Linked DNA regions of Homo sapiens: region 2 is linked to region 1. The links come from fine-mapping of genetic effects on gene expression. A gene starts in region 1. The other region holds a variant in brackets. All regions are shown on one strand. Distances are from middle to middle.

Region 1 (11,368 bases):
CTAACAGAAGGGCAATCCAGATGCAACACAAAGAGCATAAAAGTTACTCTTTGCAGAGACAGAACCAAGATTTTCATAATCAGTCAATCAGTAGCCTAAAAGGGAATTTGATACCTAGGAACAGAAAGTTTTCCTGTTTATGCAGGTTTCTGCTCTAACCACAGCCTATGAGCACAGTGGGCGGGGGCACGGAGTTTGAGCAAGGAGAAAAAAAGATAAAGCCTCAGCTCTACCATGCACCTGCAATATGACTTTTAAACAAGCCACTTGACTTCACAATGCAAACTGATACCTTTATTTACCAGCTTCGTATGAGCAAGTCTAAAATGAGTCTCACTGCTGTTGAAATGAACCAGAGGATGTCTAGAGAATGAAATTCCAAGTATTTATTAAGTGCCTACTCCTCAAGGGCTGTCCCTGTACTTAAGAAGAATATTTTTTTTGTTACATTTGAGTAGCATTTGACTTGTAATTACTACACAGCATCCAAAATGCCTGGAAAGACTGTTCAAAATGCAAATTTCCTAGAGCCAATCCTAAGATTAAGTTTCAGTAGCTTGGGAATAGAGCCTGGGAATCTGCATTTTTATCAGGTTCCCTGATGATGCTAGAGGACCATTTGGAAACCCAACACTATACATCACATAGCACACCTTCCCACACATTGTCTAATTTAATACATGTGTAGGGTATTGAAGCGTTCAAATTAGAGAAAGCTGAAACAAACACAAATACCGACACCTCACTAACTAAAACAGAGACCATTATTCACGTGCGCCTTGAGTCAGGCAAGGTGTATTTATTGAGTGCACATTGCACCAAACCCTATACTTGGCAAAGAGAATATGGACTTGAATTCGATTTTGGACTTTTCTTCAAATATTCTTTAGTCTATTAATAAGGAAAAAGAGGAACGTCAACCCATGATGCCAGCTCAATTTGATAAGTGTTTTGACAAATTTCTGACATATCTTGTGTCCAATATACAGATGGTGCTATGGAAGCATAAAGGAGGGTCTCAATTAGAGTGGGCTGAGGGGACAGATATATTGGAGGGGCTGACGCTTGATAACCTGGGTTATTAATTTTGAGTGGAGGTTAGATCAGACAGGCAGGGAAAGACATTCCAGAGAAAAAGAAGAGTAAGCAGTGTGTCTGTAATAGTGACCCATGCCTACCCAGGAAAGTTCAACCATCACTCATATGGGGAAGTGGGCCCAAACAAAAGGCATGAACTATCCTAAAATTGGGAGAGAACACAGAGAAAAATGAATGCTAGGTGAAGATATCTTTGTATAATCCACAAAAAAATAAAATATTAAACCAATTAGTGCTAAAGGTTTTACCCAGGGAGCATTCATGAGTCTTTAATGGTTCGCTGATAAGAAGCCACAAAAGACACTTTAATATGAACACTCAGTTATGGGAAGGAAATTAGAGAACATGGAAATGTGGAAGCCAAACTTGGAAATGGGCACTGAAGAGGAAATTGATAGCCAGAGTGTCAATGCATGCATGCGGGTTAAGGGAAGCAGGATACCAGCTGCAAGAAGTTTACTGGGAGGGGTTTCCCACGCCATTGTTGTGGTCTACAAAAGTAGAAAGCAGGTAAGATGTTCAGAGAGCTGGGTAAGTTAGTCACATGGAAGCTGTGAAAATTTCTAGAACAAATAGTAGGGAGATATGGGGTAGTACCTAGAGGGGAGAGAAGTGTTCATTAGTGATTTCTTTACATTCTAGGTGATGTGAACCTGCTGAAATGCTGCAGGGATTTCAGGCAAGTTAGCCTTGGCAGTGAGAACAGATACAAAGAGAGAAGGAGGTAGGAGGTGTGTGTGGGGACGGGGGAAGTGGGGGAGATTTTTATTGTTCTGAGATAGGTCTAAAATGAAGGACAGTATATCAGTCAGTACAGGCTAACTGCTATAATAAATAACCACACAATTTTGGAGTGGCTTAACCCAAGAAGATTTATTTCTTCACAGTCCAATGCAGTTTTCTTGGGAGGGGAAATTATCAGCTCTACACAGTCATTCAGGAGCTCCGGCCTTCTTCCATCTAGTGGCTCCTCCATCTCTTAGATCCTAGGAGTCCTACCATGAATCCTCTACAAATGGCCAAATTGGCAAAAGAAAGCTCTGGAAGATTGTGTTAATAATAGTTTCAGTTTCAGGAGCTTTCAGGAGCGGCACCTGGGAGTGGCTTATTCTACTTCCACCCACATTCCATTTGCCAGAACTCAGTCACAGGGCATGGGGCAAATGACTGCAGGCATGCTGGGACTTGTCATTTAGCTGGGTGCCCAGAAGGAAGGGAAATGGGATTGGTGAAGCCATATAACCATCTCTAATCCAGATGGACACAGAGTATTCTTTAGCTCAGACCAGGGTGAGTATGTTAACTGCCTAAGGCAGTGAAGGACAGGAGATGGAACAGTTCATTTCATTAAAGGATAAAGTGGGGCATATAATTTTCCTGAACCCTTACTCCAAGCTCCAAGGCCAATTTTAAAGGATGACAGTTTGAGCCAAGGACCTGTTCAGTAAAATTTGGAGTAAAGCTTTTCAAATAGTGCCAAAGAAGCAACCAAAAACAAAAAAAAAAAAAGAGAGAGAGAGGATACATCAGATGGCACCAGCAGAAAAGATCACATACATTTGATTGACTCCTAATCACTCCCCTGTAACTTTTTTCCCCACACAAATTCCTCACACCGGAAATGTTCATTTAAAACAATTAAAAATCCTTCAGGGAACCCCCACCCCACTCCCTGCTACCACATGATCAGCCCAGGGGCTCACATGCTGAAATCTATAGAGAGCTTTAGGTCTCAGAGTATTTGAAGGATAGGCAGGGATCTCACCACCTTAACACAGAAGCAGTCCTACACCCCAATCAGGGAAAGCCTTGGACACTATCTATTGCTACCTTTAGCCTGGGGCAAAGGAGAAAGAGAACTGCACAGCTGTCCTAAACAAGTAGGGTATGAGACCTCTCTCTTCCACCAAGAATAATAATAAGATAGCCTTGATTGAAAACTCACTGTGCGTCAGACACTATGCTTACATGTATGAACTCACAACAATTCAGTGAGGTAACCACTATTATTATCTCTTTTTTACAGATAAGGAAGTTTCCTGATGCCCACAAAGTTTAAATAACGGACTCGAGGTTACCCAGCAATAAATGTTGAAAAAGAGTTTAAATTAGTTGGCTTTCAGAGTTTGTGTTTTGGACAACTATATTCTACTTTGGACAGCACTGTATTTTCTCATTGTAAAAGCAGGCAGGATGGAGTAAAAAATAAAAGTCAAAACAATTTGAAAACAATATTTTGTGATGAACATAAAACATTTTCTACAATCAGCATCCTTCATTTGATTGTCTTACTTTATTATCTGGTAAGTGCCAAAAGAAGACAAAGTGTAGATGTATTTTCCTTAGTTTACTTTTAGCTCCCTTTATTTCAAGCCTCACAGTCAATGTGTTCCCTGCCTTATGTTTCAAGGGGGCTCCAGGGTATTTTTTCTCCCATGTGATTACAAAAGCAGTTAGCCGTTTAGCCTAGCAGGGGGAATGAGAGGAAACGGAGAGGCCAAAAATTTTAAACTTTAGGCACTATATCTCCAATAACTGACAACATTTTATCTTAATTATGCTTTATAGTATTGGAATACTAAACAAAGAGGAACGACCTGCTTACTCTGTAGTCTGGAGCAGAATGAAATAGAACACGTAGGGCAGAACACAACAAATGAGTTGTAAATGTCTGTGCACAAGGCTTGATCTTGGGGATGGAGGGAGGATATTTTTTAAGTTATTCAAACGCTGAGTTGCTTTCAAAGAGTTCTTCTCAGACATCAACAATGAACTCTTCAGATACCCTCATCCCAGACAGCCCTGAAGTCCAGTTTATAACAAGACCAATAACTCACTCCTTATCTCTAAAGCTACTTGTTCAATTCTCTTGACTTCAGGGCCAAAATGAGTTGTTTATTACTTATGGCAAGTATAAAAAAGGCCATCTCAACCTGTGGTCAGTTCCACGAATGGCAACTTGTTTTCTGATAACTTGCATGCACATGGACAATAGCCAAATTTCCAAAAAGATTTAGGTACATCAATTGTATACCGATGGTCATTTAAAACCATTTTTTCCAGCAATATTTTAGCATCTAATTTGATAAATCACTGCATTTGGAGGCTGTGGGGGTGTACAGAGACCTTCAGAAAGCAAACATAAACTGGAGGCTTGGCGGTTTGAAGATATTCAAGCAGAAAAGTCTAGCAAAGAAAAAGGGGGTTGTAATATGGATCAGTCTCCATGTAACCTTGAGCCAATCATCTAACTTCTCTGAAACACCAGTTTTCTCATTTTATGAAACAAGATTTTATTCAATAAACACTATAACTTAGTGAAAGACTGGATCTGGTATCCCGTAGGCTTGGATGGATTGCTGGTACTAGTATTGGAGCTTTTGTTTCCCTGTTTGTTACAATTCGGATATTAGTGAGTACCCTACAGAGGAATAATGATTAAATTGTCTACTTAATTTACTCTTAAGTGTCTGACCACGTATAAGTGGTCAATACAGGCTGTTTTCATTTTTACTATTACTGATGGAACACACTGCATGACTAGCATTGGGAAAGAGGCCCAGAATACAAGGTTGTGCAGAATGCAAAGTCTATTCTCAAGGAATTCGCTTTGTAGGGAAGAGGTGGGGGGTTCAAATAGGAAGTATCAAATTCCTCATTGGGAAAGAAAAGAGGCTTCATAGAAAAGCTGCTGGAGCCCAGGCTTAAAGATGAGTAGCATTGGGGCCAGAACCAGATGTCTAAGAACTCTTTGAGGCTTAATGTTAGGAACTTTTGAAACTATTGGTCTGGAATGTTGTATATATGAAGTTCATTTTTTCAGCATCCAATATTCAGAACACATTCATTCATTAACTTTCCATCCAGAAATGTAATCATTAACTACTGCTGGAGCCTCCTTTCCCACAAAACCAAACAAAACTTGCTTAGCAATCCCAATTCTGAGGCTTGGAAAACACTTTTACATCCTACTCTCTGCTTGCATGTATGAACTCACATACATGAGTTGTGAGGTACTCCTCCTATATTCAGAAAATTGGAGGCCAATATCATAGGCACAGCCAGGGAATGCACCGGCCAAAGCTCAGGCTTTTGGGTGGCATTTGACACCAAGCTCCTTTTAAATCGGGCATCAGCTCTGGGTCAGCAGCCTCACTCCAGTCAAAGAAGAGGAGCCAAACGTCGCAGGAGCAATTTCAAAGACGTCTGGGGAACGAAAAGGGTCTTCGATCCAAGGACCAGCCTAGGGGCCATCGGGAACCAAGGCTCTGGGGGATCCCAGCAGGGCCCAGACGCCCGCCTCGGGCAATGTCGCTGCCTGCCCCGGGCCGCTCGCAGTGCCTGGGCCATACTGGGGTGCCCTGGGGTTTCTTCTCCATACCCAGACTCAGCTTCCCCGCTGGAGTCTGTCTTCCTGGAACACGGAACGCGGGCGGGCTGTGTTCTCAGTCACAATCAGCTCGGATGAGCTGGGGGGCGCGGGCGCAAGCGGGCATCGGCACCTGGCAGAAAGCGCCGCGCCCCCCGCGGGTGCGCACACCTCCGCTCCCCGGGGCGGCGCGCGGTCGGGTGTGCGGGGTACGGGGCGGGGCGGAGCGGAGCAGAGCAAAGCGCACAGGAGGCCCGCCTCTGCTCCCCTCCCCCGCCGGCGAAGATTGACACAGCTCGAGCACCCGCCCCAACCAATGAGCGCGTCCTGGGGCGGGCCCTGGGACCGGCTGCTCCGGCTACTTAGAGTCGTCGGCGCGGCGGTGGGAAAGCAGAGCCGAGCCGGGACTGTCCAGTGGGAGCAGGCGCCCCGGCCAGCGCAGACCTGGAGGCGCACGGGCGCCGCACCGCACGATTCGGCTCGGGGTAGAGCGGAGCCGCAGCCCCACGCGCAGCCCAGGACCCACTCGCCACCGCCGCTTCCTCAGCACCCATGGGGACCAGGAGACTTTAAAGGAGTTTGGGGTTTCGGGAGCAGGGAAATCACGGGTAGGGAGAAGCGGCTTTCTTTGCCTTGGAAACGGTTTTTCTTCATCCGATTGTTTGGATCCTGTGCTGGGTAGGAGGGAGAGGGGTCTTTGGGCTAAAAGTGAACCTCTCTACACACACACGCTCCCACCCACACCCACACACATACACTGCACTGGCTTTCTCCATCCTTCCCCTGCCTCTTTGTTAGGTTATTTTAGACAGAGCAGCCTCGCCCTGGCGCAGTCCCATTGGCCCTGATGGGGACAAGGCAAGAGAAGTAAGGGGCAGAGTGCACCTGCCTGTGAGGGCAGGTGTGCCCGGGTGCTTGGGCGTACGTGCAACGGCGAGCGTGCAAGCGTGGAGCTGAAATTGTGTACGAATGTGTGGGGTCTAAGTGTGCCAGTGTGTCGTCGCGAAGGTTTGTCATTGTGGGTGTATGTGACATACACCAGTATACCAGGCTGCCAGTGTCTGGACTCCCAAGTGTCCAAAATGTTGCTGGTGTCAAGTGAATGCCTGAGAATGTGTCTGATTGTCATTGTGCGAGCCGCTGTAAGGGGAGGAAGGCAACCTAGTGCAAAACTGGGAGGTGGGCTGGAGAGGGTGGGGACAGAAATGGGAGCTTGCTCCCAGCTCACTGGCCTTAGGCTCCCTTCTCCCTTTCAGCCCACCCCTCGGTCCTTCCTGGGTGTCCGTCTCCCACACTGCCACAGCCAGCACTCTCCTCCCCACCGGGACCCCGCAAGCTCTCCAGCCAGCCTGGGTGTTTTCTTCTGGGAGTTGGACCGAGTTCCCGGAAGGGGTCGGAGGCTGTGTGGTGGCGTCTGCTCTCGCCTGACCTGTGGCGGCTTCTCCGCCCCTCGTACCCCTGGGGAGGCACGGAGGACTCGGCTGGAAAGGGTGACTCCGGTGAGGGCACGTAAGCTAGCCGGCAGGTCCCAGGGGCACTGCACGTCTTGGGGAGGGACACCGAAAGGGGCAGCCCGGACTCTGACGGTGTCTCTGCCTCTCTGTGCCTCCGCAGATCCCCGCTCCTGGCCCTCGCCTCGCCACCTCATTGATGGGCAACCAACTGGACCGCATCACCCACCTCAACTACAGCGAGTTGCCCACAGGGGACCCGTCGGGGATTGAAAAGGACGAACTGCGGGTCGGGGTTGCCTACTTCTTCTCGGATGATGAGGAAGACCTGGACGAACGCGGGCAGCCCGACAAGTTTGGCGTGAAGGCCCCCCCGGGTTGCACCCCCTGCCCGGAGAGCCCCAGCCGCCACCACCACCACCTGCTGCACCAGCTGGTCCTCAACGAGACTCAGTTTTCCGCCTTTCGGGGCCAGGAATGCATCTTTTCCAAAGTGAGCGGTGGCCCTCAGGGCGCCGACCTAAGCGTCTACGCGGTCACCGCGCTGCCAGCGCTCTGCGAACCCGGCGACCTGCTGGAGCTGCTGTGGCTGCAGCCCGCGCCGGAGCCGCCCGCGCCCGCCCCGCACTGGGCCGTCTACGTGGGCGGCGGGCAGATCATCCACCTGCACCAAGGCGAGATCCGCCAGGACAGCCTGTATGAGGCGGGCGCGGCCAACGTGGGCCGGGTGGTGAATAGCTGGTACCGCTACCGCCCGCTGGTGGCCGAGCTGGTGGTGCAGAACGCCTGCGGCCACCTGGGCCTCAAGAGCGAGGAGATCTGCTGGACGAACTCGGAGAGCTTCGCCGCCTGGTGCCGCTTTGGCAAGCGGGAGTTCAAGGCGGGAGGGGAGGTGCCGGCAGGCACGCAGCCCCCGCAGCAGCAGTACTATCTCAAGGTGCACCTGGGAGAGAACAAGGTCCACACCGCCAGGTTTCACAGCCTGGAAGACCTCATCCGCGAGAAGCGCCGTATCGACGCCAGCGGCCGCCTGCGAGTGCTCCAGGAGCTCGCCGACCTCGTGGACGACAAGGAGTAGCCGCCTAGGGGCTGCCGGCCCCTCTGCCTCCCCCGCACCTCGCTCCCTTCCCTTCCCCGCACCCGGACTTCGCAGTCAGCGGTTCTCAACCTCTGCCCCGCCCCGCCACGCGCGTCCGCCGCCGGTGGCCCGGGCCCGGGCTGCACCCCCGCATCCCCAAGCCAGCGGCAGGAAGTCTCAGGAACTGCCCCAGGGCCGAAAGGGCGCCGCTGCGAGCGCCTGGCTGACAGCCACAGCGGTGGTGACGGTGCTGGGAGACCCCGCGTGCGCTTTCCCCTTGAGATGTAAACCGGGAACGGGGAAGGGGCTGAGGGGAGAAAGGACATGGCCTTCCCCGCGAGTCCATGGCCAGTGACTGTGGCCCGACTCGAAAACAACCCTCTTCTCAAAAGGGACCATCACCGCCCCGAGCGTGCGCACACAGACCGGTCGGAGGCGAGAACTGGTCTCTACAGGGCACAGTTCAGCTCCTCTGTGGATGCGTCCCCAGATCGCAGGATTTCCAAGAAATCGAGCCTGTCCCTTGTGCACTTGGGAATAATTCCCCAAGACAGCACTTCGGGATTCCGGGTTATCCTGAGGCTGCCCGGGACTTTTCCAGCTCTCCAGCCCCAGGTCTCCTGACATTGTGTTCCAGGCTGCGGGCTAAGCCAGACAGTGTTTGCCTCCGGTTCTTTCCACCGTGGGAAGCGAACGCCACCCCCACCCGCCTTTGCCTGCGAGTCTCCCTCGCTGGCAGAAGGGAAGCCGGCCCGGTCCCGGGAGGAAGATGGCGCTGCGAATTCGGTGAGGACAGCCGGCCCCGCCCCCGACAAGGAGCTCGCTCGTTCACCTGGTGTCTGGGAACTTGAATGTGTGAAGGGCGCTTATTGTTCTGAACCCTTGATTGCTCCCTCCTCGGGCTGCATTTCAAAAATAGTCATATTTTTAAAGGAGTTGGAGGAGAGGGAGGGGGAGGACATGGCACCATTCCAGAAACCAGCATTGTTACAACACCATAGCCAGTATATTTAGTTTGGCTTTTCCTAACATAGAAATCTTCAAAGCTGGGGAAGTGGAAATAAAGTTTTAAAAATGAGAGAGCAGTTTTCCAACTATGTCAACAAAGCCTATCGTGTTGATGTTTTTATTGACCATTTTAGCAACAGGCTAATAAAATTTCAAATTGAAATTTTTATTTTCATGGCTTTAATCCATGATAGTTTAAATACTGGGGGCCATTAAGAGTGGATGTAGCTAAGAGCTTAGCTAACATTGCCTTTTCACTCTATTTTTCTCAGATATTGTAAGCATTCTGTTTTTCAATATTGTAGTTAATTTTTTGGCTTTCAACAGCAGCCCTAGTAATGGTGGAGTTGTTAATTAATGTGTATATTGTACTGAATTTCTGTCAGTTAAGGGGTTCACTGCTTTGGTGGAAATTGGTGGAAATTGCTAGCAGGTTCCACGATGTTTATTTTTTTCTCCATGTTGTATATCATTACCATTTCACATACGCGTTTCTATTTTTCTTCCTCTCCTCCTGATCTCCTTAAAAATGAATCTAGAGTTGGTGGCTTTTTCCCCCTCCTCTTTGGCCAGTTCCACAGTTCAGTTCTTCCTGAAAACAGGGATGATGAACTTGTAGGATCAGGACAAATGTGTGTTTTTCAAAAACTTAAGGCTGGGTGTGAAACACCTTCTGTGGACAAGGATTTGTAAACTTCTCTCCTCCCTCCAGCTGCGGCCCCAGCCTAACTGATAGTTACTTGATTCAGTGTGCTAGACACTTAAATAGCATCTATGTCTCTTTCAAGGGAATTTGTCAAATAATGCTGTTTAGCTAATTGTTGCAAGCAATTGCATATTAACAGCTGTGATTTTGTTGGACAGCAAGTATTATGGCCAAAGCCAGTTTCTTGGCATTTCAAAAATAATGCAATAAAAACTAGTTGAGGTTAGCTGAGGCTGGAAATGCCTTTTTCATGGTAAATGATTCACTTCTATATTTTTCTTTCTTTTTCTTTTTTTTTCTTTGGTTTTCATCCTGGATTCATCCCCTGATCTTAAATCAAAACGTCAGATCAATGAACTATGAACTAAAGTATTTTTCTTAAGCCTATTGAGTGATTTATTTTTTAAAAAATGTTTAAATGCATATGCTTTTCTTTCAGCACAAACAACAGCAAAAACTTTTGTAATAACTAACTTACCTTTGCATGTATGAAGAACTGAGTCATTTATTTCCCTAACTTACTCCTCTTTCAAGTAACAGGTGGCAGATCATAAAATGAATTCTTTATTGTATCTACACACTCCACATTCTTTACTGTGTCCTACTACTGTATCTTGGCTCCCTGCTGTATTAAACACCATCTTAAGCACTTGTTCCTGCAGGACTCCTTCTTGACATTTTGTCTCCCCCTTCAAAGTCACTCAAAGAGTGGGACTTCATCAAAAGAAATGAATTAGTCTCTATCACACCGAATACTAAGATTTATTTCCTCTGATGGTACATAGATTTCTCTCTCACTAAGAGGGTCACTCTCATAGAGGAATGTCTTGTCAGTTTTATACTTGCTGAGGCTAGACTGACAATAAAAATGAGCTGGGCAGTTAAATTAGCATTTGTTACTATATTGGCCTATAAAGGATCAGGTTGATGATAATACCTCTAAAAATATGCAATAATAAAACAATAGTTATGAAAGAAACTTGAAAGGTTTGCAAGGTTTCTCCTATCCCTGTTAAAATTATCATTTATTATCTCTTTGTCAGTGTTAGTAAGGTAACCCATGACAGAATAATTTGAGTGATAGTTCATCATGCAGAGGATATGATCAAGATATTACCTAATGGTTTTATCCTGAAAAAGGTGTATACTTTTAGGGCACTGTTAACAATGCGAGTGAAACCAAGATGGTGCAAGTTCCCTTTGCAGATGGCGTGGGCACACTTGATTTTTATTATGAGTGAATGTAATCTTTCTGTATTTTACCAGAGTTACAGCAATTACCTGAAAAGTTTCCTAACATTTTAATAATGTTAGGGATTTCGTTTTGGTTTTAGTTGTCCTCAAGAGACAACAGGTTCACAGTAATTTCCATGATGTTGGGTGTGGCTAAGCTGGGGATTGGTTCTGTTCCCCCTGCTCCCGTGTAGAGAAAAGCTATATTTATACTGCATTCTTTCTCAACTTTCAGGTAAAACAAACTATGATTTAAAAAAAGAAAAAAGAAAAGACAGGTACTTTTACTTCAAAGAGTGCTTTGCTACATTTTTATTTAAACCAAAAATCAAATAAAATAAGGAGGGGGGCTGGGTATACTTTAAACAAAACCAGTCCTGAAATGCTGTTATTCTCAAAGTACATTCCAAAAAAAAAAAAAAAAA
Region 2 (11,368 bases), 230 kb before region 1:
CTTCCCAATAAAATAGCACTGAAAGGTGGCCCTTTGCAGCAACCACTGCACATTCACATAGGAAGAGAGATAGACCTCTAGTCATTTCCTTTATTTGTATCAGTGTGAAGAAGGGTGATAAAAGTCAACTCACCTGAGCAATAAACCTGAGAGGAAAACTCATTAGAGTTAAGGAAAACTCTAAAGCTTGAAACTTTGCAGTTGTAGAGACAAAATATTTTACAGTATATATTAATATCATGAGCAGTACAAAGGAGGCTTATTAGGACACAGAAATAGATCAGCCAACCACAAGGTCCAAATGACAACAGAAGAAAATCAAAACCAGAACAGAAAAAGACTCACCAATTAAACCCAACTAAAGGTTTCACTAAAATCCTAATTTAGAGGATTTAATGGTATAAATTAGAGGTGCTCTTTTGCATTGAAGGGATATCAAGTGTTTATGTTGTGTAATACACTGAGTAGAATTTATTTCAAAGCCTGGTTTCCATCTACACTATGTTTTAGTTGACCTTGGAGTGTAAAAAAGAATCATGGACATACTGAATCATGGACATACTGAAAAAGAATCACTGACATACTGAAAAAGAGATACAGTAGGGTCATCAACTATCTGTTGCCTAAAATGAGTTCACCAGCAAGAAATGCCTCTTACAAAATTAGAGAAGAACAAGGCCAACCCCTGCTCTGTTTGGACCATCCCTAAAAATAAATGTCATGAGCTTAAACACTGCATATTGAAAAAGAACATTTGCAAGCATGCACCTCTCTGTTGGTGCTTTTTACATGTGACTCATTGAGGAATGCATTGTCTTCAAATTGTTCTGCTTTTTTTTAATATATCTGCAACTTTTTTATATTTCAGAGGTGATGTTTCCACCCAAAATCTAACTGTGATTACTGCAGGCTACAAACTTATTTGGTAATTGTTTTGCTTCTTGTAATTTCTTTTTATAAAACCAGGTTCTAAACTCCTCTCACTTCCCATCATCAAATTGGTTCAGTTTGTTTTAGAAAACATTTTGGTATTTATAGCTTAATTTCTGCTGAAATTATACTGCACCAAGTTAGAGTTTAATTCATTTCTTTAAAGGTTGCTACTAGTTTAAACTTCATTATGTTTCAGAGGTAATTTGTCCACCAGATTTGTTTTAGACACATTGTTTTTAAATCACAGGTGCATTTTTAAAAATCAAGGTTTTACATAATTTCAAAAAATTGGGTCATGTTACATTTACTTTTTGTACACAGTTCAGTTTGATTCTCCTTGCTATTTCTAAAAGGACTACTATTCAACAGAGCTCTCAAATCAATGCAACTCATTCAGGGAAGAGGTATTTATGCTCTATCTTTTGCATCCAGCTACAAAGTAGAACTACAGATTGCTACAGGAATCATAATACTACAGAACAATTACATTGATCATGCAGTAGATATAACTGGGCAGGTTTGTTGTTTGTTTTGTTTTGTTTTTGAGACAGAGTCTCACTCTGTCATCCAGGCTGGAGTGCAGTAGCACCATCACAGCTCCCTGCAGCCTCGACCACCAGAATCAGGTGATCCTCCCACTTCAGCCTCCCAGGTAGCTAGGACTACAGGTACACTGCACCATACCTGGCAAATTTTTTGTGTTTTCTGTAGAGAAGAGATTTTTCCATGTTTCCCAGGCTGATCTCAAACTCCTGAGCTCAAGCAATCTGCCCACCTCAGCCTCCCAAAGTGCTGGGATTACAGGTGTGAGCCACCACACCTGGCCTAATTGGGCAGTTTTAATTTCAAACTAAAAGTTACAAATTTCACTAAGCACTAATAAATGCTAAAACAGCAATCATTCCCAAAACCAAAACTAAACTATTTTAACTAAAATAACATCTTTTTAGTTAATAATTCCCCTGGCTGTGCCAAACAATGAAGGATCATGCTTGAGAAAAGAGAAGAAGAAAAAAGCACTGTGATTTGATGAGATGTGTGCTACCCAACTCAAACGCAGTTTTGCCTCTTTGCTGTGGGTGCTGGTGTAAGGAAAGAATCCCTCTGGGCCCCATGCATATCCTCATATGTATCCTCACAAGCCTGGCCCAGATGATGTTCCAGGTTCTTTCCTAATGACTTTTTACAACTATTAGTTTACTCTTAAATAAAGAGCAGAATTGGGTTCATTTCAGACCTCTGCTTTAGATCTGCTGAGGAGGAAGTTTCTTAGTCACATAAGTATCTATAGCTAGGTGTATTATCGCCACATTTGGTATTAAGTTGTGACTTAATAACATAATGAAAATTTAGAATAGATTAGGTTTATTAAATAAAATGCATCGGCCTGTTATGTCAAGACTGTCTCTGAAACTGCTAGGATTCCGAGCAATTGTTTGATGGTATACTCTTACTTGAATGTGGAATTGTTCCTGATTGGCTTACAAAATAGCTCCCCACCGTTCAGAGACCAGGGAGCTCTATTAATGTAGCTCTGGGAATGTGAAAGGTCCTACCTGCCAAGGCCTTCACTCTGACCACAGTACCTTCACTCTGACCTCCATCGGCAAGATGCTAAAAGCTGCACGGAGAACTATGTTCTCCCACTTCCCCAGGCACCTCTGATAATTTATGATCTCCCCTAGGGCAGTTTATTCCATGCAGCTTATCTTTGTTCCAAGTGTTTTTCATTTGAAAATTGCAAACAGATTGCTAAACTAACATTGCAAGTCTTTAGGGTCACTTGCCCACACCCTAAAGATCTCTACCATTACTTACTGGTTATTGCTGCTGAATGATGCCTCCTTTATCTTCATCCTGCTCTTCTGAGTGAGTTTTCTGAAATCCTACATCTTGACTAGACTCACTTACCCATTGGCAAGTCTGGGCTCCCCAAATCCTCCCCTTACAGCCTGTGCAATTTGTAAGCAGTCACCCTCCCTTTATCCTCTTTGCCCAAAGCTTCATGTGACAGATTAAATTCTTGTAATCGCTTTTCCTGTGTCATTCCTCTAATCCTTTTACCATTCTATTTTGCCTTTGTGGTGTTTATTTCTACCATTTTCAAGTTACTTTACTTTGTATGGCAAATAGCAACAGATGCAATGTTCAAATAAGGCAGAGACCTGAATAGGAATTTCAGAGACTCTGTGATAAGGTCAGAGCTCCCAGTAGCATGCTGTGTGACCTTGGACTAGTCAGATATGAGATACCTTCCAGGATTCACTTCAAACCTCCCTGTGTCTTTAAAGAAGCACAGAACAGATTTCTCATTCATGGAAGAGTTTCACATAGCAAGTGGTAGATGCAAATGCTTGGAAATAAATCGTAGGCACTTATTCCAGCCGTAATTATTTATCTTTAATAGTTAATGTTTTCAATAAATGACCTTATGGATTTCTCCATATCAGAGTTGACTTATTTATTGATCCTGATTATTAATATGCATTTTGGTATCAGCATGTCATTTCCTTGAGGGATCAAAGCAAAAGAACCCCAATAAATGTAGACTCATTCTCACAACCTTGCTGAAGTCCATCAAACTAAGGGAGGGAAGTAAAAATGTTTAAAAAAATCCTGGAAAAATTAGTCTGCTTCATTTGTCTAAAACCAGAAAGAAAAAAGTACTAAAGAAAAATGAGAGAGAAAGAAAACCATATTGCCATACTGATCATTCAAGGTTGTTTACCAGAGCTTTCACACCTGCCTCTAACCACTGCCTCCCTCAAGCCCTCCATTTTCCAGGGATCAGAGGAGGGCAAATGAGATCATATATTTGAAGTGTTTGGTCTCCTAGTAGGGAAGGGGTCATATAAATCCTCAATGTTGTCACTTACTATTCTCCCCATGCCTTTGACCTTAGCTCACTGAAAGTAATTTATAACTGGTTGTAAGGGCTCCTGAGAACAGCTTCATCCACCTCAGGGGGAAAGAGGCCCTAGACAGGGAGCACCTGGCAAGTCACACTCCCTTGACCACAGGACTCCCACTCCGCTGCTTGAGTAAACATAATTATCAAGACAATAGCAGCTGTGACTTGTCTTCTGGTGCCAAGAGGTGAGTTATTGTCCGCCAAGGTGGGAGGCTAAATCAGAATGCAGGCTTCCCTCCCCACCTGCCCACGTTTACTCCAGAAAGGGGAGTGAGGGGGAGTGACTTGTGCTGCTTCCGAGTCCTATCCTATAAGCCAGCTCCACAGAAAAATGTTGCTGCCATTGTTTTTATTCTTTAGGTTCAGGGAGGCAAGAAGGGAAAACAGATGCAGAAACTTCCTTTGAGAAGGCTGATAAAATGATTAACAAGCAGTCAAATTAAAAAAAACTTAGTTATATCAATTACCTGCCTCATTTTTTGTAATCATCATTTTGTTCTGAGTCATCCAGCCCAAAAACTCCATCTCTACCTATAGCCAGTTACAATTCTCTATCAGTTGTGCCTCCTAAATAGTATCTAATTCATTCCTTTTTTTCCGCTGCTGTTGCCTTTACTAGGAGCCTAGTATCCTGATTTTAAGAACTCTTCAGAAAACTTCAGGCTGGGCATGGTGGCTCATGCCTGTAATCCCAGCACTTCGGGAAGCTGAGGCAGGAGGATCACTTGAGGTCAGGAGTTCAAGAGCAGAGCCTGGCCAACATGGTAAAATCCCATCTCTAATAAAAAAAAAAAAAAATAGCAGAGCTTGGTGGCATGCACCTGTAGTCCCAGCTACTTGGGAGGCTGAGGCAAAAGAATTGCTTGAGGGTGGGAGGTGGAGGTTGCAGTAAGCCAAGATCACACCACGCACTCCAGCCTGGGTCACAGAGTAAGACTCTATCTCCAAATAAATAAATAAATAAATAAATAAATAAATAAATAAAAAGGATCAGCCTAGAGCAAAGATCCTAATATTGGTACCAGCATATAATGAAGGGACAGCTA[T/C]GAAGAGGACATGAAAGCCTGAGAGCATCCTGCTGTCATAGACACAGGAGTACAGGGATGGGAACTCCAGCCTGAGGATGAGGAAGAAGGTGTTTAGTTATATCACTAACCAGACACCTGCCTAAAGTGTTTCCTTGGCTCCAGGTATCTGTTCAGCATGAGGCACTTCAGCACACACAATCTAATCTCCAAATATTTTTTCAGTCTCACCTTTTATTCCCCCTCCCACTGCAGTCATCCTATAATCTAAATAAAATATAAAGCAGAGACTTCAAGCCTTTGCTGCCCCATGTCATACCCATTCCCAGGAATACTGTTCAACCCTTACACAATTGGCAAATCCCATTTGGTCTTCACAATTTAAAGGACAGCTCCCTCTTTTGAGATCTTCTTTCTCTTTATAGGCATCTGCCTCTGTACATCAACAAATGGTTTTTCATCTAAATATTATGTTTTTACGTGACAATATTGTAATTATTTATTTTTTTGTTTTCCCCACTAGACTGGGTTTTTCCTCCAGGAAAACCCTGGGTTTTAATAATCATTTTATTTCTAGCATCCAGCACTATGACTGAAATATGTTTGTATAACACATATTTTACTGAATTCAAATTAAACTATATAGAAGGAGGAGGTTACAAGGTGGACATAAGTGAGAATGAGAGAAAAAAATAAGCAAAAGAAATTTAGGAATTAGAGATTTTTTACTCATTATCCTAAAATGTGAGTTTATGTTTCATAATAAGAAGGAGAAGGGAGATGTGATATGATTGATGGGATAGGATGGAATGAAATGGGATGGAATGGGATGAGTACATCCTTTTCATTATACCTCACCAAAAATAATGCTATACTGTATTTGTGCAAAAAAAATGTGTGTATCACTTACTATATGTCACGCATTGTTTTAAGGGTTCAACACACATTAAGTACTTTAAATCTCGTAACAGCGCAATAAAGTAGGTACAATGGTTTGGAATCTTTTACGTTCTTTTGACAACTTCTGACAACTTTTACGTTATCAATTACTAAGAATCCACCAGAGCTTAATTTCTGGGGATTATATCTATAAATATTTTACATATTAGAAATTAAAAACTGCAGAATATAAAAGAATTCATATGTATTAATTTTAAATAATAATATACATCTTAACATAAATGACATTTTATTTTTGAAAAACCATTTTGCAAAATAGAAAAATTATTGAGAGAAGTAGCATTGCTTTACATTTTCCAAATCTTTAATGTCTAGTTACTGGAATTCAGCTAAATTTCCACTTCTGCTTCTGCATGCAATCTGTTGTGATGTGTCATTTTTGTTGAAGTATATGAAGAAAATCTGGCCTTACCTAGGAATGTGGTTAGAAAGAGAAGTTTTTAATAGGCTTCTCACATAATGGTTTATATTTTTTATATACCAAAACTGACAAGTTGTAGTTTCTTAAAGGTTAGTAGTTGTGTGGAATCTGAAACTATATCAATAATCGTTTTCTGCTCTGTTACATTAAAGTCCTTTGATCTACCTTATAGAGTAGAACTATTACTCATGTTTGATTTTGAACACCATGTATTGGTAATTTGAAATGTATGGGCTCATTAAATTATGAAGATCTTTCAAGTGTTGAAACATAGTATCAAATATAGCATCCCCCAAAATCATAGCCATTAATATCACCACCAATCTCATCTGATATATCCTTAAGTATTGGGAAGCTGCCAAGCTCATAGATGAGTTTTCCAAAACTCTTTCACTTCAAAGCTTGAGTTTTATCACTGGCAACAAATATTACCAATTTTTTTTTTTTAGGTAATCAGCTCACTTTATTCACTTTTGAGACTATGCCTGCCAAATACCAAAGTACAGATGAGCTTTGTTCCATCTGTTCATTGTTCTTTTATATAGAAGTAATATTAATGAAAGAAAAATGGCTAGTTTAGCTCACAATGGAAACAATCACAAGAGCTTTTGTAGAGACAACCGTTGTGCTCTACTGTGCAGCAGAAATGCTTTATAAGGACTTCCCATTTGTTAGACAGAATTTTCTTAAAGTGTACTTAAGAGGTTGAGATCTAATACTATTAATATTTACTCTTTTATCAAAAACATTCTTACATTAAACTCTTTTTTTTTCTGCAAGTGTGTGATGGTAAAGAAGGAAACAACTACTAGTGCAGTCTAGTGCCACCAACCTTTTGCAAAATCAGTACAAAAGTAAACACAGTGAAGAAGGCAAAATGTGTCTGTGTTGACTCCTAGATCCATTGAAAGAATTTCAGGGACCCCCAATAGTCTACACTTGATTGAACTTCTAACTTAACACATTTTAGGGATAAGGAATTAGAGTTCATGAGTTTTCACTCACTATCACACAGCTTGTAAATGGTGGACACAGAATTCAAACTCAGGCATCTAAGCTCTATAAGATCTGTAGTATGTACTGTTGTTTCACCATATCATGCTTTCTTTATTCTTTGGATGATTCAGAGCATTTTCAGAAGCAATAATCAAATATGTGATGTTCTTATCTGCTATCTTTAGAACCTAACCCCCAGTGAGATGAAACTCTACCATAAACATGTATTCAACAAATGACAGACAGAACAGTTCTGTAGGCAGATGCCCAGACATGCTAATTTCTTCAGAAGAAAGCCATAAAACAGAAAGGAGCATGGAGATTGTTGGGAGCTTAGAAGAGGCATGAATGGTTTAACTCTGCTGATGACATAATCGGGAACCTGCCCAGTTAGAGGCTTGATCTCCAACCTAGGGATCTTAGGTCAACAATCTCTATCCAGGCTTAAACTCCATCCTGACCCCAGGGCATGTTACTACAAAGAGAGTCATAGTGGACAATTTGCTATATCAGGGACCAGTCATCAGAGGAGAGTTTCTTGTCTTCCATGACCAATTCTACCTGCCTGTTGTATTCACCTTCCTCATTAGTATTTGTCTCCCTCTCTCGACTTCCCAAAGACTGTGCTCCTCTGGCCTTTCACTCTTACCATCATGCGCTCCTTCTTTACACTGGATCATTCTTAACATCTTGTCAACTCCATCTAGTTTCACCCATCTTACAAAACAACAAAACACAAAACTTCCCTGAAGCCACATTGTCCTCCAGGTCCTGCCCATTTCTCAGCCTGTTTCACAGTCAAACATCTTGAAAGAGCTATGTACACACTCTGCATCCACCTCCTCACCTTTCTGTCACTGCACAAACACTCTCCTCTCCTACAGACTGTATGGAAATGACTCTTTCCAGGGTCTCAATCACCTAGTGTTGCCAAACCTGCACTCATTTTACTCAATGTCCCTGGTGCATTGAAACTTCTTGAAACACTCTCTTCTCCAAGCTTCTGTGATCCTAATCTCTATTGTCCCCTCTTACTCCCATTATCAAATGCATCTCCCTGGCTTATGCCAGTGTTTCTTAGCACTCAAGCTTTGCCTACATTACAAGGGGATCTCATCTATTTACACAGCTTTCAATACTCTCTGTGCTAATCCTTCCAAAAGCTTATCTATTCCTGACCTCTTCTTAGAATTCAATCTTGTTTACCCAACTATTTCCTGGATGATTCCATGTCTTTGTCTCATTGGCATCTCAAACTTAACATATCTGATAATGAATTCTTAATTTCACCTCTGAAAACTTTTGAAAACTTTCTTCACCATATGTCCTCACAATCTCAATAAATGGTGCCACCATCCACCCAGCTGTGCAAGTGAAAAATACGGGAGTCATTAAGTTACTTAACCCTCTGCATCACTTCCAAAATTAAATGTATTATCAAGGACTCGTGGTTGTATTTCTAAGGAAATGGGAACGTGTGTATCCATGTGTGCGTGGCCAGGGGGCAGGGGGAATCTGAATTCCGCCTACTCTTCTTCATCTCCACTGCCACCACCACCCTTGGTCAGACCATTGTTTCTACCCACTGTCACCTGTTCTGTTACATGACATCTCTAACTGGTCTCCCTGCTCTCAGTTTTGCATTTCTTCAATCTCTTTCCATTTAGCCACCAGTGATTCCATAAGCATATACATTGGATTAATATCGCTCCACTACTTAAAAGTCCTCAATTTATTTTCCATTTTAGCATCATATTGAGTCATGTTACCCATTATCAAGGAGGCAACAATTATTTAACTTCTTCCTAATTTCTAGAACACGCCAAGACATTTTGTTTTAGGGCCTTGGTCACACTTGTCCCATCTGCCTGGAAGGCTCTTCATTTAACCCAAAGCTTTGGCTTCTTTCTACCCCTCAGGCCTCAGCTCAAATGTAACCTACCCAGTGAAGTCTAATACTTTATTCTTCATCATGGAAACACATTCATGTCTATTTTGTATCTTGTAATAATTTACTTATTTGTTAGTTATCTTGTTTATTTTTGTTTCCTCCAGTATCCTTAGCTCTATTAACTCAGGAGCTAATACTCTGTTTGGTCTGCTTCTTTATAACTGAGGTCTTTCACAAGACTTGGCTCAATAAGTACGCATTAAGCCAGTGAATAATATTCTATCCTATCTCGTGATGTCTAGTCTACTGTGTGAAATTTAGAGAAAACTTTCCTCTTAAAAAATTGTATACTATATATGATGGTCTAAAATAGAATCAGGGAGCCTGGTGCGGTGGCTCACGCCAGTAATCCCAGCACTTTGAGAGGCCGAGGTGGGCAGATCACCTGAGATCAGGAGCTCGAGACCAGCCTGACCAACATGATAAACCCTTTCTCTACTAAAAATACAAAAAAATAGCTGGGTGTGGTGGTGCATGCCTGTAATCCCAGCTACTCGGGAGGCTGAAACACAAGAATTGCTTGAGCCCAGAAGTTGGGGGTTGCAGTGAGCTAAGATCGTACCACCGCACTCCAGCCTGGGTGACAGAGCCAGACTCCATCTAAAATAATGAATTAATTAGTTAATTAAAATAAAATAGAATCAGGGTCTAAACCCAACCACTGTTAAAATTATGGTTGGGTTTCAAAGAGCTATATGTTGACTTTTGGATTTCAAATGTTCATTGTTACTCTGATAGGTGAGTTTAAATTTGTTTTAATATGTGTCACACTCCTAGGTACTTTTCTAAATACTTTGTATATTTTAATTTATCTTTTCACCCAATAACCTCATGGAATAGTGAAAGAAACCAAAATGTTCACCCCAAAATATTGAGGATTGCTAATGACACTGAAAACTCAGGGAAACACTCTGCCTCCACTTCTATTTGCCTGATCACAGGACATAAATCCTTCCTTACTGAAAACAGCACTTGTGTGTTGTCCCAGAGAAGGCACCAGCAGGCACCAACAGGATCTGGAAACTGATTTTACCATCTTTCCACATTCTCCCACCTTTTAAAAGACCAAAATTGCTCTCTCCTTTGCCTTGCCACTAAGTAGGATTTCTGGCTCTTTGTGAAAATACTATTTAAGCAAACCCTCTAAGCTACCACCTTGAGAGAGAAATACTTTTGAGTAGAGGCCTTTCCCACACAATTGGTACAGTGTACATTAATGTATTTCTGCTTGTTTTTGTTTTGTTAATCTGACTTTTGGTTTCAAGAGAGTATCTCAACTGAGAACCTAAAAAGGAAAAAAATATTATATTTTATCTTCTACAATAGGTATGTATTTTATCCCTATCATACAGATGAGAAAATTGAGGCACACAGGGTTTTTTTTGTAAGAAAGTTGATTAAAATGACATAACTAGGAATCCCGAGAGGACCCACACACCCTTGGAAAAAAGCAGACTGCTCTGCAGGACCCGGGAGACACTCCAAATACTGTGCTGGTATCCACGGCTGAGAGACCCATAGATGGTTCACATCACAGGACTCTGTGCAGACAGCCCCCAGTACCAGCTTGAAGCCAGTAGATTTGCTGGGTGGCTAGACCAAGAAGAGAGATAACAATCACTGCAGATTGGCTCACAGGAAGCCACATCCTCAGGAAAAGGGGGAGAGTACTACATCAAGGGAACACCCCATGGATCAAAAGAACCTGAACAACAGCCTTCAGCCCTAGACCTTCCCTCTGACAGAGACTACCCAAAAGACAGGGAACCAGAAAATCAACTCTGGTAATATGACAAAACAAAGCTCTTTAACACCCCCCAAAAAATCACACTAGTTCACCAGCAGTGGATCCAAACTAAGAAGAAATCTCTGATTTATTTGAAAAATAATTCAGGAGGTTAGTTACCAAGCTAATCAGGGAGGCATCAGAGAAAGGCAAAGCCCAATGCAAGGAAATCCTAAAAAACTATACAAGAAGCAATGAAAGAAATATTCAAGGAAATATATAGCATAAAGAAAAACTAACCAAATCTTCAGGAAATATTGGATACACTTACAGAAGTGCAAAATGCTCTGGAAAGTCTCAACAATAGAGTTGAACAAGTAGAAGAAAGAAATTCAAAGCTCAAAGACAAGGTCTTCAAATTAACCCAATCCAACAAAGACAAAGA

The links. PIP is the estimated chance that this variant, and not a neighbour inherited with it, causes the effect.
Region 2: its variant is the best candidate, but not a certain one, in a credible set for the expression of LRATD1 in lung (TOPMed, PIP 0.89).

Annotation. Positions count from the first base shown.
Region 1 is chr2:14,626,863-14,638,230 of GRCh38, forward strand. It overlaps LRATD1 (LRAT domain containing 1), which reads left to right and starts at 5,855. Exons shown (of 2, transcript NM_145175.4): 1 at 5,855-6,075; 2 at 7,082-11,368. The coding sequence starts at 7,118. The coding sequence ends at 7,996.
Region 2 is chr2:14,398,092-14,409,459 of GRCh38, forward strand. It overlaps LINC00276 (long intergenic non-protein coding RNA 276), which reads right to left and starts at 2,867. Exons shown (of 4, transcript NR_103814.2): 1 at 2,752-2,867. RefSeq lists an enhancer at 3,712-4,269. The variant T/C (reference allele first, on the strand shown) is at 4,891.